Regions from separate parts of the Homo sapiens genome. Here region 2 is linked to region 1. Evidence: fine-mapped expression QTL. A gene starts in region 1. The other region holds a variant in brackets. All regions are shown on one strand. Distances are from middle to middle. Region 1 holds the start of ZNF655 (zinc finger protein 655). Region 2 overlaps PILRA (paired immunoglobin like type 2 receptor alpha).

Evidence for each region.
Region 2: its variant is fine-mapped to the expression of ZNF655 in whole blood (INTERVAL, PIP above 0.99).

Annotation. Positions count from the first base shown.
Region 1 is chr7:99,554,113-99,565,589 of GRCh38, reverse strand. It overlaps ZNF655 (zinc finger protein 655), which reads right to left and starts at 6,948. Exons shown (of 3, transcript NM_138494.3): 1 at 6,803-6,948; 2 at 4,895-5,057. The coding sequence starts at 5,030. LOC105375422 (a long non-coding RNA gene) reads right to left here. Exons shown (of 3, transcript XR_927801.4): 3 at 9,633-10,854. It also overlaps a transcript of FAM200A not described here. RefSeq lists enhancers at 6,874-7,143, 7,174-7,303.
Region 2 is chr7:100,387,475-100,395,474 of GRCh38, reverse strand. It overlaps PILRA (paired immunoglobin like type 2 receptor alpha), which reads right to left. Exons shown (of 7, transcript NM_013439.3): 3 at 5,369-5,587. Among named protein-coding and RNA genes, the nearest start is that of PILRA, 18 kb to the right of the region's middle. The variant A/T (reference allele first, on the strand shown) is at 4,282.

The DNA of each region.
Region 1 (11,477 bases):
AAATTACTTATTACCGACTTCTTTACTCAGCTATTTGTACTCTGTATATTTACTGCTGCATAGTGGAAGCACTTAAGCAAAGGACCAACGTTCTAATGTCTGTGACAAATACAATCTGGAGGCCAGGCGCAGTGGCTCACAACCTGTAATCCCAGCACTTTGGGAGGCCGAGACAGGCGGATCACGAGGTCAGGAGATCGAGACCATCCTGGCTAAGATGGCAAAACCCCATCTCTACTAAAAATACGAAAAGATTAGCCAGGCATGGTGGCGAGCATCTGTAGTCCCAGCTACTTGGGAGGCTGAGGCAGGAGAATGGCATGAAGCCGGGAGGTGGAGCTTGCGGTGAGCAGAGATGGTGCCACTGCACTCCAGCCTGGGCAACAGAGCAAGACTCCGTCTCAAAAAAAAAAAAAGTCTTACAACCCTAAAAAGTTAAATTAATAAATGTATAAACTTAACCCAGTTATGCTGGAGGTTGCAATTTTTGTTAAAAATCAGACCTTGGCGATGACCTTGAGCAGCGGGACATAAATAATTCCCGCAAGCTTAGTGTTCCAATAATGGAACACTAGGCATAAATGGGTTAATTTTCAGATGAAGTCTGCTGAACCCAAAAATATGAAAATGATTTCCCAAGGATTGTAAAAATAACTGCTAAGGAGATGCTGCTAACTTGATCACAAAAGCAAGATGAGTAGAAGGCTTTCTTGCACTGTGCGTGTCTCTTGTATGTGTAAAAGTGTGTATGCATGTCGACTGCATGTCGAGTGTGCAGTGCAGAGATAAGAGAGGAAATGGGATAAAGTTCAGTCTATAGCATACTATGCTATTAGACTGCATTAAACTGCTACAAAGTTTCTTTACTCCAAAAAGTAGACAGGTTAACTGTTGGAAACTCTGTAATTATTAGATAAAATTAACAGTACTTTACAATTATATGTATGTCACTTTACAGTTTACAAAGTTATTAAGTAGATATTCAATTTGATGCCCTGAAATAAATTTAACTTCTTTGCCCTCCCTTCTCCCCTCCATCAAGGACAGAGTAAGGAACACTTAATCAGGAAAGGCAATATAATTGCATCAATCTGTACAGAACCACAAAGAATAAAGGGTAGGAAGGTAGGACCTTGAAGAGGGCCACAGGGACTTCAAGGAAGGAGGAAACCAGAATGTTAAACATGAGGGAAGCCCAGGGTTCACAGGAGAGTTAGGCACCATACGGGGCAGGTTGTGTTCGCCACATAAAAGGAGGGGCACACAGCATAAGTTTCACATTCTAAAATAATATGAAAAGACCATAACTGAAGAGCTGAATTTGGAATTTCTGGTTTTTCACAATACAAGTAGATGATGACCACCAACCATGGTTTCTGAATGAACTGGGTTCAAAACATATCTGGTTGCAACAGAGGGCTTCCTTGGACCCTAACATTTGAAATTAAACAGAGGTAATTTGAGGAGCTGCGATTTTACACAGTGGTGGCATCCTGGGGAGCTTCTATTCCATCAGTCAATTTTAATATCTCACAATCGTGGAAAAGGAGTTTCCGAGCAGGGACGAGCAATATCGATGGGAAGCCGATACTTGGGCCATCTCTTGGAGATTCCTGCTGTAAGGACGGCAAGTGTTTCTCCAGAGAAAGCACTTGCCTGGGTATGACTCAGGGCCGGGCAGGAATTCACACTATGAATCCGGGTGGTGGGAAGGCGGAGAAGTATGCCTACAAAGATTAAAGAGCCAGGAATGGAAAACACACTAAAAACCGTCCCAGTGGGCAGCCTGCCTCCCCACAAATAAGAAGACCTTGAATCCTGAGCATAATCAGGGAGACAAAGCAATGCCCTGGATGCCACCAGCATAGACAAAGCCAACGGAAAAAAAAAAAAGAAAAGAAAATGCATGATTCAGTATTTACACACACAAAAAGAAGAGTGCAGAAGCAAGCAAGAAACTAAAGAAAAAGGAGGCTGGGTGCGGTGGCTCATGCCTGTAATTCCAGCACTTTGGGAGGCCAAGGAAGGTGGATCACTTGAGGTCAAGAGTTCGAGATCAGCCTGACCAGCATGGTGAAACCCCGTCTCTACTAAAAATACAAAATTAGGCGGGCGTGGTGGCCCATGCCTGTAATCCCAGCTACTTGGGAGGCTGAGGCAGGAGAATCGCTTGAACCTGGAAGGCAGAGGTTGTAGTGAGTTGAGATTGCACCACTGCACTCCAGCCTGGGCAACAAGAGTGAAACTCCATCTAAAAATAAAATAAAATAAAAAATATAATATAATATAAAAAATAAACTAAAGAAAAAGGAACAATGCTCACACCAAGGGAGCTGCCGACAAACCCCACTGATGCTTCCCAGCAGCACTACAGCTTGGCTAATCCCAGCTTCCCACTGTACCTTTCAAAATGACAAGGGAGAGACATGAGTTAAGCATTGACCCCACCTCAGCATGGGGTAAACATCTGAGATTTCTGCTGCCCTGGGTGTGGTTACGTGGGATTACCATTCTGGGTGACTCACTGAAATGTACTCACAGTGAGTCATGCCTTCAAATGACATCTCAAGTTCTGCCTGCTTGGAGATACATCTGGGGATCTTAAGGGGTGAGGGACTACTCAACAAGAAGGAATTTAGCCTGTCTTTTTAAATAAACGGCATTTCTTTTTCCTAGAAAAATGGGAAATTCTTCAATTCTCTAATACAGGGACACTGAGATAACAAAGAGGAAAGTGTCTGGTTGGAGGTTGGGAGGCCACCCTGGGGTCTCTCCTACAAAAATGGAAAAGAAAAGAACGGTGAGAAATCAAGCAAAGCACAAGAAAGTTTCCCTTTGCTAAAAGGGAAAAGATGCCCCACAATGGCCATAAACATGAACTGGGGATAAGGAGGAGAATGTCTCTTCTTGGCACCCCCAAACAAACGTTAATTACCCCTCCCGGAGAAGACGATGTGAAAGATAAGGATTCAGAGGTTCTAAGTCCTGGAATCTAAGCCACACTCTACAGACCTTCTCAGAGACCTTATACTTAGGAAGAAACAAGAAAGTAAAGAAATTCAAATAGATAAACCGAATAATAAGGAAGTCCTTACCCAGTGAGACCACGTTCCCATAATTCTCTAACATCACTTCTCTGTAGAGGTCCCTCTGAACAGGGTCCAGGTATCCCCATTCCTCTCGAGTAAGGTGCACAGCCACATCCTCGAATGTCACAAACTCCTGAAATAACACATCCTGGCTGCTCTGAGGAATGAGAACACTGTAGCACCATGGCCAGAGAATGAAGATCATAGAGAGGGTATCCACTGTGTACTTACGTTGAGGAGGAGGGAGAACAGATTAGAACCTACGGAATAAAGCCCATAACCCTTAAACATCTAATAAGCACCCATCACACAACCATGGACAAAGAGAAAACAGAGTTTGCTCATGGCACTGGGGAGATGGGAAGTTGGTTTATGTGAAGTCCAGGTCTCCGAAGAGGATCAATTCCCAAACTGGAGTCTGCTATTGAAAAAAATTCCAGGCAAGGTCTACAGATGGGATGAGAGAGAGGCCACACTCCATCAGTAGCAATAGTCCCTGAGGAAAAGCAGAGGGTTCCTCAGCTCACCTGGTACCTGGCTGTCAAGAGCGCAGCTGCCTGGTCTCCTGGGCTTCCCTCACGGGGAAGAGCAGGCACCTGAGGAACAGGTGGAGCTGAGGGAGGAGAAAGGAGTGAAGAGTGAGAGCAGCCCTTTCCCAGGGCTCCCTTTCAGAGGAGGCCTCTCCAGCCCAAGGGGTGTCAGCAGGACCCTCCTCAATACTCTAGTAAAACCAATGAACATTTTTCAGGTATTGGGTGTGTCTACTCTGCTTCGTCTCAGTACTTGCATGCCTTATGCGTGTTTTGACCTGTGATACAGGATTTTCTTAGGAAAGCTTGTATTTCACTTTATCTTCATCACATGACAGTCCTCTTACAGAAGAGTAAGACTATACCTGTTTTGCAGATGGGCAAAGCAAAGCATAAAGACTTGTGGGGACTTGTCCTGGGCTAGGGTTATTTAGCAGACTTCTGACCCTTTCCAGGCACTGTTCTAGACACTTGATCAGCGTTTCTCTTGTGAATGGGTGCTGTCTCAACCAGTGTGTAAGGCCCCCAAGAACAAGAAAGGGTCATCTGTTTCCTCGAAATCTTTTCCACAGTCCCACAATCCCCCACAGCACTCTACACATTGTGGCACTTGATCTGTGTGGGTGACACACAAGTTATTTCAGGCACTAGAGTTAACCACAGGCAATCTAAGACACAGCTCTTATAAAACAAAGGAAGAAAAAGACCAACCTACCTATACGATACAGCAAAGTGTGACTGCGTAGTCAAAATACAGTATATATACATTCATACAGGCATTGTGTTCAACCAAGGAATTAAATGGTTGCTTCCTTGACCAAATTTAGTCTAGTCACAAAACACTGCAGTTACAACAGAATGGATGGCAGGTGACAAAGCAAAGAAAAACTAAGTGAAGGGAACAGGGGAAAGAAAGGTCCTGAACCTAAGAGGAAGTGAGAGCCAGGAAAGGACTGTGAGATGTGGCAAAAGCAGCATATCTTAGAAATTATTCTGGATGTGAGAACTGGGATGAAGTGAAGGTTGCCTGAAGGAAAAACCACCACAGCGAGTAAGCAGCCATCACTCTGCTTATTTGAGAAAGATGAGCTATCCTTAATAAAGGGGCTCAGACTAGGACTGAACTGAGTCACATCTGCCCCCTCTTTCATTCCTCCCTCTAGGGACCATGTTCTTATTCCAGTTCTTGGCCTCTCTCAAACCAGGCCCAGGAGCCCCCTCGGGAGCCCCTCCGCACTCCCACTCTCCCAGACGGAAGTGCTTTCTCTGCCTTACCCCCAGTGAGTCCCTGTTCCATGTCGGTGTCCTGCACAAACTGAGGCTCTGGGGACAGACACTCAGACTGGGTCTCCAAAGACTGAAACTGGACCCTTGGTGACCCTGCTGCTTCCTGGGCTGGTATTTCCTCCATCACTGCTCTGGAGGACAATGACCATCACTGCAAGGTAAGATTAAGAGAAATTACTGTAATAAGTTAAAGCATTTCATCATTTTATATCGTCAGGACTTTGCAAAGGATCTTACACACTATGGATATTCAATAAAAATTAGTTGATAATGATTAACCACCCTAAATAAGTAACAGAAAAATGGGGCCAGGCGCAGTGGCCTGTAATCCCAGCACTTTGGGAGGCTGAGGCGGGAAGATCACTTGAGGTCAGGAGTTCAAGACCAGCCTGATCAACATGGTGCAACTTCTTCTCTACTAAAAATACAAAAATTAGCCAGCGTGGTGGTGCGGGTCTGTAATCCCAGCTATTCGGGAGGCTGAGGCAGGAGAATTGCTTGAATACAGAAGGCATACGTGGCAGTGAGCCAAGATTGCACCACTGCACTCCAACCTGGGCAACACAGTGAGACTCCGTCCCAAAAAAAAAAAAAAGAAAAAAAAGAAAAAGAAATATGGATATGCTTCAGCTTTAAATACTTAAGAACCAAATCATAGAAGAGTCTCTAATTTGGAATTTGTGGCATTAAAAAAATTAACACGGTACAATTTAATAGTGTAAAGCTTTCTGTGGAAACTTTAAAATATTTAAAATTGGCCACGTGCGGTGGCTCAAGCCTGTAATCCCAACAGTTTGGGAGGCACAGACGGGTGGATCCCTTAAGCTCAGGAGTTCCAGACCGTCCTGGACAACATGGTGAAACCCCGTCCCTACAAAAAAAAAAAAAAAAAAAAAAATTAGGTGGCCCAGGCCTGTAGTTCCAGCTACTCCAAAGGCCAAGGCAGGAGAATCGCTTGAGCTTGGGAGGTAGAGGCTGCAGTGAGCTATGACTGCGCCACTGCATTCCAGCCTGTATGACAGCGTGACAGCCCACCTCAAATAAACAAAACAAAATATTTAAAATTTACAATCGTCTTTGGAGGCTCAAGTTGGTGCCCAGAGAAAAATGCTAGTTATGATTGCTCATTTTATTTTAATTTTGTTTTAGCAGAGATGGGAGTCTCGCTATGTTGCCCAGGCTGGACTCGAACGCCTGGCCTCAAGCGATCCTCCCACTTCGGCCTCCCAAAGTGCGGGGATTACGGCGTGAACCACCGTGACAGGCCCGCGTTTACGTAAATAAACTCATTTAAATAAATAAAACAGCAGGCCCCCTAGGAAATGTCTTGGTAACACCGTCAGCCCACTCCGATTTACTACACGGGCTTGGCGAATAAAACTCCACTTTTGGGGTCAGGCCCTTCGCTAACTCAGACCAGCTAGACCGGCCTTTTCCCGGAATCCTGAGAGCAACGCAGGTAAGAGCTGCGGTTCGAACAGGTTTGAGCGGCGTCCTTCAGGCCCAAGGACGCATGAGGGTGCCGTCCCCCTCCCACCACCCTCGCCCTGGGCCCCTGCCCGGCTCCCAGCTCGGTCCTCAGAAGGCCTTGCCCGGCGCTGCCCTCCTCCCACTTCCCTTTTAGGCCAAGGCAAAGTCCCAAAAGGACCAGTGAGGACATACAGACCAGCTCGCACCAGGGCACGGTCGCCGGCTCCTGACGGCGGGGCCCTCGGTCCGCGAGGTGAATGAACCAGGGCTGAAGAGAAACAGGCCCTCCTCGCACCCGGGCCTCCGCGCACTCTCGGGGAAGCGAACTACCGTCGGCCGCGGCCGGACGCCGCCTCCTTCTACTCCCGTGAAGGCAAAACAAGCTGCCACCCCGCTGCGACCCCAAAACGGCTTCCGGGTACTCACCGAGGGGAGGGGCGGGCCTGGCCGCTGTCCTGTCACCTACACACTCGCGCTCGGGGCCACCACAGCCTCTCCCGGGCCGCTGTAGACAGCCCCGAGGCCGGCGCTTCTCGGTGGCACTTCCGGCGACGGAGTGCAGGGTCCCGAATGAGGGCCCCCCCTCCTCCGCCCAGGCATGAGGGTCCCGGATGTGGGTGAGAGCCCCGGATGAGGGTCCCGGATGTGAGTGAGGGCCCCGGATGTGAGTGACGGCCCCGGATGAGGAACTCGGAGGAGGAGCTGGGCCCGCGCGTCCATGATTCGAAGGCTCGTTTTCGCAGCTTTTCCACGTCTTTTTCCGGTCCCACTGCCCTCCATGCTAACTCACTGGGCGTCTCTAGCCGTTATACCAACAATGACTGCGACCAGTGTTGGGAAAGCGCCCCCTGGGCCCCTCCCTGACGCCAGCCCATCCTTGAGACTCCCTGCAAGGAGGCGGCCCGACCCAGTGGGTGCGTGTCGTGGGGTGAGGAGGAATGGCCGACCTAATGGTCCCGCTTCCGTGAGTAGCACAGGGGTGCCTGCTCAGAGTGTAGTACAACGCTGACAAGTAGAAGGCGAGGATTGCGGGGCCTGGGTGAGATGGGACCCACTAAGTTGTGGGATCGAAATCTCAGTAGGTCCTTGGGGAAAGCGGGGACGGGAGGGGAGATGAGCAGATTGGAATAGAACCGAGAGAGACGGAGGAAACTGACAGTTGCGTCCCTGGTGGGAAGACTAAAATCTATGCAGAAACAGGGATAGGCAAAAGCATTGTGCACAAGCGGGACAGGCAGAGCGCCGGGACAGAAACCCTTAGGACATTCTGACACCTTGCTGAACCTGGATCCTTACAGAATATGTCTTGTAGGTGAAGCTAGATCTGCAAGGCATAGGCAAGCCTCTTAGAGAATCAGAAAAGTGATTTGGAAGGAACTTCAGCTGTTACTACTTTGTTTAAGCAAATCAAATGCTGTTCTTTAATGTTACTGGACGTTTCAAATTAAACACAAGAAAACCTGAAGTGTGGCATTTTATATATTTTTTCAAAATGTATCAGCTTCTTGGAGATTCTGATATTCCTTTCCTCTCTTTATCCCTAAGTATCATTTATCCAACCTAAATTCATACTAGGACACAATCTCTCTAGTCTGCAGTGCCCGTCACAGTGGAGTCAGGATCGGAGAAAGAAAATGCACTGCTTAGTCCATTTCATGCTGGACAGCTCCAATTAGAAACTTTTCCTTGTGTTGAACAGAAATACACCCCTGGTGATGTCTATCTATTGTTCCTGTTGACAGGTCCCCAGGACAATAGATGACACAGTACTTCTTCCTCTTCATAACGGCCATTTTAATATCCTAGGAGAGCTAAAGGTTTGGAGTTCTTCCTGAGTTGCCATTTCCCCACCTAGAACCCTTCACAGGTTGTACCTATTAGCAATGTGATGGGAAACCATTTCAGCAGCAAAGGTGAGTGAGCTATGGCAGTGAGGCACATCGCGTCCAAGTTTTAGCTGACTCAGGCAATTGGCTCCAGTGAGAGGACCACAAAAGGTACCCACTTAAAGAGGCCACTTCCCACCAGTACTCATCAAAACATAACAAAGTGTTAAGAAACAGCAGCTGCTATTTTGCTTTTGAGCAAAATTTTCTTTTAACAGTTTGCCAGATGACAGAGGTGGAAACAACTCAAAAAATTGTTACCTTTTTTCGTTTTTGTCTTTTTGTTGTTGTTGAGACAGAGTCTTGCTCTGTCGCCCAGGCTGGAGTGCAGTGGCGCGATCTCAGCTCACTGCAACCTCCAGCTCCCAGGTTCAAGCATTTTCCCTGCCTCAGCCTCCAGAGTAGATGGGATTACAGGTGGGCACCACCACACCTAGCTAATTTTTGTATTTTTAGTAGAGATGGGGTTTCACCATGTTGGCCAGGCTGGTCTCAAACTCCTGACCTCGGGTGATCCGCCCGTCTTGGCCTCCCAAAGTGCTGGGATTACAGGCGTGAGCCACTGCACCGAGCCTGTTTTGTTTTTTTTAGTGCAAATTAACAAACTGATTCTAAAGTTTATATAGAAATGCTAAGGATTTAGGATTGCCAAAACAATTTTGAAAAAGAATAAAATTGGAATACTTGTATTTTTTTAAGATTTTTTTCCTAAAGGTACAGTAATCAGGATGGTATGGTATCAGCATAGAGACAAATAGATCAACAGAGCAGAACAGAAAGTCCAGAAATATGAGGTTGAATTTCTTAAAGAAAAAAAAGTCCAGAAATAGATCTAGATACATACAATAGCTGATTTTTTATAAATTACTAAGGTAATTCTGCATCTAGCTAAGCTGAAAATTAGGCCGAGGATCTGTTTGTAACAGTGACAGTAATGTAAAGGAGACCAATTGTGCAGACTCGGCAGGTCCCCTGAGTCAAAGTCGTGGCTCATACAGGGAGAGGGTGGGATCCTGAGACCTGTTCTCTGTCACAGTGTAGTCCGCAGGAACTTTACCCAACCATCATGATGGTCCATATATTGATGACAAATGCTAGTAGTACCCAGTGAGCAGCAAGTGACAAGGGTCATAAATATCCTAGTAAGACTTCTTACTAAGGCAGTACAGAAACCTGAAGATATGGGCACTTATCAAATGGATGAAGTTTTGGTGGGGCCCAGTGGTTTGGGGACATCACCCAAAGGTAAAAGAAAGTTGTTCCACCTTGCACCCTCTAATCCCAAAAAAATTGGTACAGGTCCTGGTGGGCCCCTTTGGATTTGGGAGGTAGCATATTCTGCACCTGAGAAAACTGTTCCAACACATGTATTAGGTGACCTAAAAAGCTTCCACTTTTTATTTATTACTATTTTTTTTTCTTGACACGGAGTCTTGCTCTGTAGCCCAGGCTGGAGTACAGTGCCGTGATCTCGGCTCACTGCAACCTCTGCTTTCTGGATTCAAGCAATTCTCCTGCCTCAGCCTCCCTAGTAGCTGGGATTACAGGCGCCCGCCACCATGCCCAGCATTTTTGTATTTTAGTAGTGGAGGGGTTTCACCATGTTAGCCAGGCTGATCTTGAACTCCTGACCTCAAGCAATCCACCCACCTCCGCCTCCCAAAGTGCTGGGATTACAGACGTGAGCCACCATGCCTGGCCAGCTTCCACTTTTTATTGGGGCAAGAGAGCACTCTATAGTAAATCCAAGCAACAGTGCAAGCTTACTTGCAAATTCAGTGGTTCCAGAAATATCCTTGATGGATACAGGTGCTGTATGGAGTTGCTGGCAAACCCCAATAAGAGTGTGCATTCGTGTGCTAGGGCTCCTATAACAAAGTACCACAAACTGGGTGGCTTAAACAACAGAAATCTGTTGGTTCACAGTCTGGAGGCTAGAAGTCAGAAATTAAGGTGTGGTTCCTATTGAGGCTGTGAGAAGGAATCTGTCCATGCCTCTCTCCTAGTTTCTGGGGATTTGCTGGATATATTTTGCATTCCTTGGCATCGTAAGAAGCATTTTCCCAGTCTTTACCCTCATCTTCATTTGGCATTCTCCCTGTGTACTATCTCTAAACTTCCCTTTTTTATAAGGATACCAGTCATTAGATGAGGGACCCACCCTAATCCACTATGACCTCATCTTGAAGTAATTACATCTGCAATGCCTCTATTGCCAAATAATTTCACATTCTGAGGTATTAGGGGCTAGAACTTCAACCTGTTAATTGGGGATGAGGTGGAGGTACAATTCAACCCATCATAAAGAGTCACAGCACAAATACCTAAGATTCTGGAGCAAGGTCATGCCTTCTAAGGCAAAAAAACAAAACCCACGTTTCCAAACTCCCAGGTCAGTTACCTCTGCTCTACTGCCACCTCTCCCATAAACTTACTCCTATGGCCTTATAAAAGTTCCCTACAACTAACTGATGGAGACAGAAGAGCCTTGGCCTCTGCACAGATTGGGGATTGGGTCAGTTCAGCATGTTGGCATCTTCCAGAAACAGACTGTTCTTCATTACAGCCCCACTCGCGTTGCCCTGAAGCATACTGGTGAAGAAAAATTATCTCAGTGAGCAATGGTACATTTGGTCACCCATGCCATATTTTGGAGGAGGTAGCCTAAGGTAGGGATATGCATTGACTCCTAGGCAGTGATGAATGGCTTGGCTTGTTGGTTAGGGACCATCTTATTGTTTATGCAATAGGCTTATGAACAGAGACCATGGTAGCAGGGATAGAGGCTGTGCGTGGTCCCAACAATATGGGCTACCTCTTATTTTTCTTTTTTTTTTTTTTTTTTTTTTGAGACGGAGTCTCGCCCTGTTGCCCAGGCTGGAGTGCAGTGGTGTGATCTCAGCTCACTGCAGCCTCCACCTCCCAGGTTCAAGCAATTCTCCTGCCTCAGCCTCCCGAGTAGCTGGGACTACAGGCACACACCACCGTACCCAGGTAATTTCTGTATTTTTAGTTGAGACGGTGTTTCACCATGTTGCTCAGGCTGGTCTCGAACTCCTGAACTTGTGATCCACCCACCTCAGCCTCCCAAAGTGCTGACATTACAGGTGTGAGCCACCGTGCCCGGCCAATATGGTCTACCTCTTACCAAGGCTGATGTAACTCTCACCATGGTGGAGTGTCCAGCCTGCCAGCATTAGAGACCAACACTGAGT
Region 2 (8,000 bases), 830 kb before region 1:
AAAGCAAAAATTATTTCTCACAGTTCTGGAGGCTGGGAAATCCAAGATCAAGGTGCCAGCATCTTGCTTTTTGCTGTGTCTTTCAGAGGGGAGGATTACTGTGTCCTCACATGGCAGAAGATTAGAAGACAGTGAACCCACTCCTGAAATCCCTTTTTATAATGGCATTAATCCGTTTGGCAGAGCCGTCATGACCTAAGCACCTCCCAAAACACACTACCTCCCAGTTGTCACACTGGGGACTAAGTTTCCAATACATGATTTGAGGAGACACATTTCAGACCATAGCATATATCATCTCTGGAGAAATGTCTGTTAAAATCCACTGCCCACTTTTAAATTGGGTTGATTTTTTTGTTGTTGAATTATAGGAATTTTTATATATTTCAGATTTTCACTCCTTATCAGATATATAATTTACAAATATTTTCCCCATTCTATAGGTTGCCTTTTGATTCTATTGATTGTGTCCTGTAATGAAAAAACATGTTTAAGTTTAATGTTGTCCTATTTGTCTATTTTTTCTTTTGTGGCTTGTGCTTTTGGTATCACAGGCAAGAAATTATTGCCAAACCCAGTGTCATGAGGCTTTTTCCCTATGGTTTGGGGTCTTACATTTAGGTCTTTAATCCATTTGGAGTTAAATTTTGTATATGGTATAAGATAAGGATCCAACTACATTCTTTGGTTTGGATATTCAGTTTTCCCAATGCCATTTGTTGAAGAGATTGTCCTTTGCCCATTAAGTGCTCATGGCACCCTTGTCAAGTCTTTTGACCATATGCGCAAGGGTTTATTTCTAGACTCTGTATTCTATTCCGTTGGTATATTAATCTATTTTTTTTCAATTCAGCTCCTTTTTTTTTTTTTTTTTTTTTTTTGAGATAGAATCTCACTCTGTCACCCAGGCTGGAGTGCAGTAGCACAATCTCGGCTCACTGCAACCTCCGCCTCCCAGGTTTGAGTGATTCTTGTGCCTGGCCCATGGTGTATAATTCTTTTGCCGTGCTGTTGAATTTGGTTTGCTGGTATTTTGTTGATGTTTACATCAATATTTATCAGAGTTATTGGTCTGTAGTTTGTTTTGTTTCTGTTTTTGTTTTTCTTGTAGTGTCTTTGTTTGGCTTTGGTATCATGGTAATGCTGACCTCACAGAATAAGCTTGGAAGCATTCCAGCTGTCTTTTGTCATTATGCCACTGTACCTGCTCTTAGACTTCATTGAACTCTTATCCCGTGATAATCTACTTTTCTACAGATTATTCAGACTCCCTGCTGACCCCTCTGCTCTTCATTCCTGCCTTCTCACTAGCTCCTTGACCTGTGATCTCCTGTCTTTCTGCCACACTTAGCTGGCAAGTCTCTAATCCTGGGGGTGTCTTATGGCAGAAATGGTATTTGATTACCCAATATCTATTCAATTATTCTTAGTTACAGAAAATTGATTGTATTTGGAGTGGGAGGGTTCCCCCTACAGATAGCTGTGGGATATGTGACCAAATTCTAGCCAATAAGATATAAACTGGGTCGGAGGGGCGGGGATCGGCTGTGTGGAGAGGGCCGGGGCTCTCACACGTGAAGAAGTTGTTGTTAGGTCTTTCAGAAAGACTCTTTAAAAGGGAACAGAGAGTTGAGGCATAGTATTTTTTTTTTCCTTTCTTCCTTCCTCCTATTTTTTGCCAGGAACCCAGAAATAGTGGCTGGAATCCTTGCAGCCGTCTTGGGCTATGAGGCAACCTTTGGGACAGAAGCCAGCATCAGGGCTGGTGAATCAGAAAGGTAGGAACCTGAGTGTCTAAGAACAGTGATGTGCTGTCTGCTTCCAGATCTGTTTACAAGAGGAAAAAAATAACCCAACTCTGTCTTGTTTAAGCTACTTTTACTTCTGGTCCCTGGTGGTAGCAACTGACAACAATTCCTGACCAACACAAATCACTAAGGTCTCAAAATCTGAATGGTTGACTACTGCTGGGGAAAAATGCAGCCATGCACAACACTGCTATCATAGATTTACAGTTTCGTATCTGAGCTGAATCCTCAAACTCCACTTCCCATTTCCTCAGTGACTATGTCAAACTTTCTCTTCAATTCCCTGACCCTCTTATTCATTCTCAGGAGAAAAGTGCTGTGGTTTTTGTTCTGCAGAATTAAAAAAAAAATCATAAGTGGTTGATTTTAATTTTTTTTTTTTTGTTTGAGACAGAGTCTCGCTCTATCACCCAGGCTGGAGTGCAGTGGTGTGATCTCAGCTCACTGCAGCCTTCACTTCCTAGGTTCAAGCGATTCTCATGCCTCAGCCCCCCAAGTAGCTGGGATTACAGGGGCGCATCACCATGCACAGCTAATTTTTATATTTCTAGTAGAGACGGGGTTTCACCATGTTGACCAGGCTGGTCTTGAACTCCTGACCTCAAGTGATTTGCCCACCTCGGCCTCCCAAAGTGGTAGGATTACAGGCATGAGCCACTGCACCTGGCCAGATTTTAATATTTTAATCCATGGCTTTGGGGCTTGGTCATACTGAGGAAGACTGTCTCTACTGCTTATGAAATAATCTCACATTTTCTTCTGGTACTAGGGTTATTTTTTTTCTCATTTAAATCTTTGATCCCTGTGGAATTTATTTTGGTACAAATTATGAGGTAAGGAGATAATGTTATTTTTTCTCAGATGGCTACTGAATAGTTCCAGCACCATTCATGGAATTACTCATCTTTCCTCATTGATTAGAAACATTTTAACCAACTAAATTCCCACATATATTTGGGTCTCTTTTCATTCTGTTATACCTAGGTTTTCCTCTTTTCTTCCATTGCTTTATCTGTGTATGAATATGCCAATATTGTACTGTTTTGTCTTTTAAATGTATTCATACGATGGTGCTCCCATGAGAGCCAGTGTTCCCTGGTTTAATGCCCACTGTTTAGTCATTCTAACTGCTGATGCTCCTGTGGCACACCCTCTGCAAGATCTAAACACAGTACATTTAATCATCAGGACAACCCCACGTAGGTACTATCTTCACTCCCTTTGCCCATGAGGAAGGTGAGGTGCACAGCCTTTGTACCAACAAGGCTGTTTCCCTGGCGAAGGTGTGAGGCCAGGATCTGACTGCAGGCAGCCCCAACCCCATGCTCCTCCCCTCTGTGCTTTCATAGCTGATAGGGCAAATCTCCTTGCACTCTGTCACCCAGGCTGGAGTGCAGTGGTACTCTCTCAGTTCATTGCAACCTCTGCCTCCCAAGCTCAAGCAATTCTTCCACCTCAGCCTCTCCAGTAGTTGGAACTACAGGTGCGTACCACCACACTTGGCTAAGTTTTGTATTTTTAGTAGAGACAGGGTTTCACCACATTGGCCAGGTTGGTCTCACACTCCTGGGCTCAACTGATCTGCCCAGCCTGGCCTCCCAAAGTGCTGGGATTACAGGCGTGAGCGGGAGCCATCATGCCTAGCCCATTGCAAACATTCTTGATGGTAACTTCAGATCAGGTTTGGAGGATGTTGGGGTGGAACTCATTAATGCCTCAGGCCTTGTCCTCTCTTTTGAACTGTAAATGTGTACTCTGAGTTTCCAATGGACAACTCTGCTGAGATGCCACACATGGATCTCCAGTGTAACAGATCCCAAATTAAATGAGGCATCGTTCCCCTCCAAGCATGATCTCCTCTCTTCCCCATTGTACTTGGTGATTTCATTACAGCCTCATCCACTCAAGTGGAAACAGGGGCTTATTCCTGCTCCCTCGCCCCTACATCAATCTAACAATCAACTTATTTATTTATTTATTGAGATAAGGTTTTGCTCTGTCAGCCAGGCTGCAGTGTAGTGGCACAATCATGGCTCACTGCAGCCTCGACCTCCCAGGCTCAAGCAGTCTTCTCACTTCAGCCTCTGGAGTAGCTGGGACCACAGGCGCACGCCACCACACCCAGCTAATTTTTGTATTTTCTGTAGATACGGGGTTTTGCAAAGTTGCCCAGGCTGGTCTTGAACTCCTTGGCTCAAGAGATTCTCCTGCCTTGGCCTCCCAAAGTGTTGAGATTACAGGCATGAGCCACCCTGCCCAACCAACCAAGTGTCATTTATAAAAAATTTTTTTTAAATTATTTTTATATTTAGTTGGAGATAGTTTGCTCCGTCTCCCAGGCTGGAGTGCAGTGGTGAAATCACAGCTCATTGTAACCTTAAACTCCTGGGCTCAAGCAATCCTCACATCTCAGCCTCCCAGTAGCTGGTACCACAGGCACAGGCTACCATGCCCAGCTAATAATAATAATAAT[A/T]ATAATAATTATTATTATTATTATTATTGTTATTATTATTTTGTAGAGACAGGGTCTCCCTGTGTTGCCCAGGTTGGTATCAAACTCCTGGGCTCAAGAAATCCTCTTGCCTCAGCCTCCCAGAGTGCTGGGATTACAGGCGTGAGCCACCTCAACGCACCTCACCTCTTTGGTTTTATTACTTAATCTTTTCCAGGATCTGGCCCTTTTCCTCTTTCCACCTCACCCCTGCACTGCACTGACCCAGCCTGGCCCACCTCTGGCCACTCCTCCATAGACTGAGGTCTCTCACGGTAGCTGAGGTCACCCTTTACTGCTTCATGCTGCCTCTGGGATCAGAGGCTCTTGGGTGTGATTTCCAAGGTCCTCTCCTTTCCTGCCTCCTCCACCAGCACTGAGCTTCCTGCAGCTCCTGGAATGGTTTCCTCCACCCACAAGGAAAGTGAGTGACCTCTACACCACCCTCACCACTTGCCAGGCTAATTCTTTTTCTTCTTTGAGACTTTTGCATATATCACCTCTGGGAAGTCCTCTCTGATTACCTCTCCTTCTTCCCACCCTTATTAAGTGCTACCATAGTTCTTTCTCAATGAAGCAATTAGTCCTTGAGGCAACTGAAAACCCCACACCCCTAGTTCCCTGAGAGCAGAGTCTATGGTTTATGCTTTATCTACTTTGCTTCTGCAGTTTCAAGCCAGGCCGTGGCAGGTGGGCAGTTGGCCAGTGCCTGCTGAGCTCAGCTTACTTCTGGTCCCTTCTGCTCTCTCTCTCCTTTTCCCAGGGCAGACCCTCCCCTCTCCTCCCCAGGAACCTTCAGGGGAGGTAGATGAGTGATGACTGAGAGAGAAGAACTAGGGGGGGATCGGCTGTGTGAAAAGGGCTGTGGGCTCTCACATGTGACCCTGCCCCGCCCCACTGCAGGAGCCTCACAAATGCAGACACCTCAGCATAGGCCACGAAGTCGGCCTCGGTGGGCTTGAGGGGAGCCAGCAGGGTCTGCATATTTCAGGAGCCCCATAGCTGCAGGTGGGCTTTGAGAAACCCCCAGATGGGAGGCTTGGGGAGAGGGCGGGTCCTGGGCACTTACCTTTCCTTCTCCTCCACCTGAGGAGGCAGATCAGTCCCAAAATCATGATTCCGAGCACAGTGACAGCCACTGCCACCCCCACAGCAGTCTCCAGACTTATGTGCCAAGAGTCTGAGCGTCGTTTGCCCTGTGTGACCCTGAGGCCGGTTGTGGTGGTTGTGCTACTGAGCCTCCAGGTGGTAGTCATGCTGCTGGGCCTCTGGGTGGTGGTCGTGACAGCTGGGGAGAGATGAGGAATGAGCAGACCCTCCCCTGGGGGCACAGGGTGTCTGGGTGAAAGGCGTGGTGTGCTGCTTTCTAGGTTGGGGGACATTAGTGGTGAGGGAGCTCCTCTCTGAAGCCCACACAGGGAGCGGGGAACAGGGTGAAATGTTAACAGCTTTCAATGCAGACGACTCAGTTCATTTTATATTATTTTTCCTTTCCTTCTTTTCCTTTCCTTTCCTTTCCTTTCCTTCCTCTCTCCCTCCCTCCCTCCTTCCTTCTTTCCTTCATTCCTTTCTTCCTTCCTTCCATTTCTTCCTTCCTTTAATTTTATTTCTTCCTCCTCAAATTCAGCTTAACAGGCAACTCAGTTTAAATCCGATTCTATACCAGTTATCAGCAGGGTGACCTCAGAACCTCATCTCCTCACTCACAAATAGGGATAACTAAATCACAGGATCAAAAAAAGTCTATTGTTGCCAATACAGGTAACATAAAATATGTCATTTTAACCATTTCTACATGCACCGTTCAGTGGCATCAAGCACATTCACAGTGCTGTGCAACCATCACACCATCCAACTCCAGAACCCTTGCATCTTCCTCAATGGAAACATTTTTTTTAAGTTAAAAATTTATTGACATTCTGATTGTGAAAAACTCTAATATTACTTTTAATTTATAATAGGAGTTACTTCCCAAAAATGTTAATCACAGATGAATTGAAAGAGTCTTTGGGATTTCACCCATTTCACAGCCCCACGTCTTAACGGAGTGCTTTTTTATTTATTTCAAGATATAGAAATCTCTACTGAAGAGGAAAAGGATACTGGAGATCTAAAAGATAGCTCTCTCTTGAAAACAAAAAGGAAACATAAGAAAAAACATAAAGAGAGACATAAAATGGGAGAAGAAATTATACCATTAAGAGTACTATCAAAGTAAGTCTGTGGTTTAAATTCTGTCATTGGCTTAACAATCCACCTCAATGGAAACATTTCACGTGTTAAACAACTCCTCATTCCTGTGTCCCCACCCTTCTACCCCTCTACTTTCTGTCTCCATGAGTTTGACTAAATACTTCATATTAGCTGAATCATACAGTGTGTTTTTACAGGATTGTCTTTTTTTTTTTTTTTTTTTTTTTTTTTTTGAGACGGAGGCTCGCTCTGTCACCCAGGCTGGATGGAGTGCAGTGGTGCAGCCTCGGCTCACTGCAACCTCCGCCTCCCAAGTTCAAGTGATTCTCCTACCTCAGCCTCCCGAGTAGCTAGGATCACAGGCACATGCCACCATGCCCAGCTAATTTTTGTATTTTTTTTTTCTTTTTTTAGTAGAAACGGGGTTTCACCATGTTGGCCAGGCTGGTCTCCAACTCCTGACTTCAGGTGATCTGCCCGCCTCAGCTTCCTAAAGTGTTGGGATTATAGGTGTGAGCCACTGTGCCAAGCCAGGATTGTCTTAATAAGTGAGAACACATCTGTAAAAAACCTACTGTATATTGAAAATATGTTTTTAAGGTCACATTAATATATATTGACCTTCACATCCTACAAACAAGTTACACCTTCTTTATAGATGTTTCACGCACCCTTAAAAAATTGACATAGTACTCAGCCACAGGACAAAAAAATCAGGCTCCTTAATGTCTTCAAGTTAGTATGAACTAAAATCTTCATCCACTCTTAAGAGAAAGTAATAAAAGTGTAAATGCTATGTCTTGATTGGGAATTTTAAAATGTTTTAATTACTTAAAGGAAAACATGTATAATAACATACTGTTTAGAAAATAAAAACTAGAGTAATACATATTTTAAAAAAGAACCCTGGAGTATGACTAAAGCAACACTCTAAGCTAAATTCATTGTATGAAATGGATTTATTACTTAAAATGGGAAGAAATTTTTAAAACAAATAAAATATTCAGTTTCCAAAGAAAAAACCCCAAACAGGAGGAGCCAGCTGTAAAGAAACTCAGAGGAAGAAAGTAATGAAAAGTTACGTAGGAATAAATTAGGGAACAGATAGCCACAGGCAAAATAAATGCAGAAACTGGTTATTTAAAGGAGCAACAAGAAGAAGATAGACAAGACTAGCAAACCTAATGACAACAAAAGCCAGCTGCAGTCACGAGTGGGTATATGCTCAATTATATGTTGTTAAATGTTAAAATATCTGTGAAATGGGTGTCTTTTGGGTTTTTTGGACACCGTCTTGCTCTGTTGCCCAAGCTGGGGTGCGCAATCGTACCTCACTGCAGCCTCCACCTCCTGGGCTCAAGTGATCCTCCCACCTCAACCTCCTGATTAGCTGGGACTACAAGCATGAACCTCTGAGCCAGGCCTGGGTGATATTTTTAAAAATTGATTTAAGAACTAGTATACCTTGGGGCCAGGCACAGTGGCTCATGCCTGTAATCCCAACACTT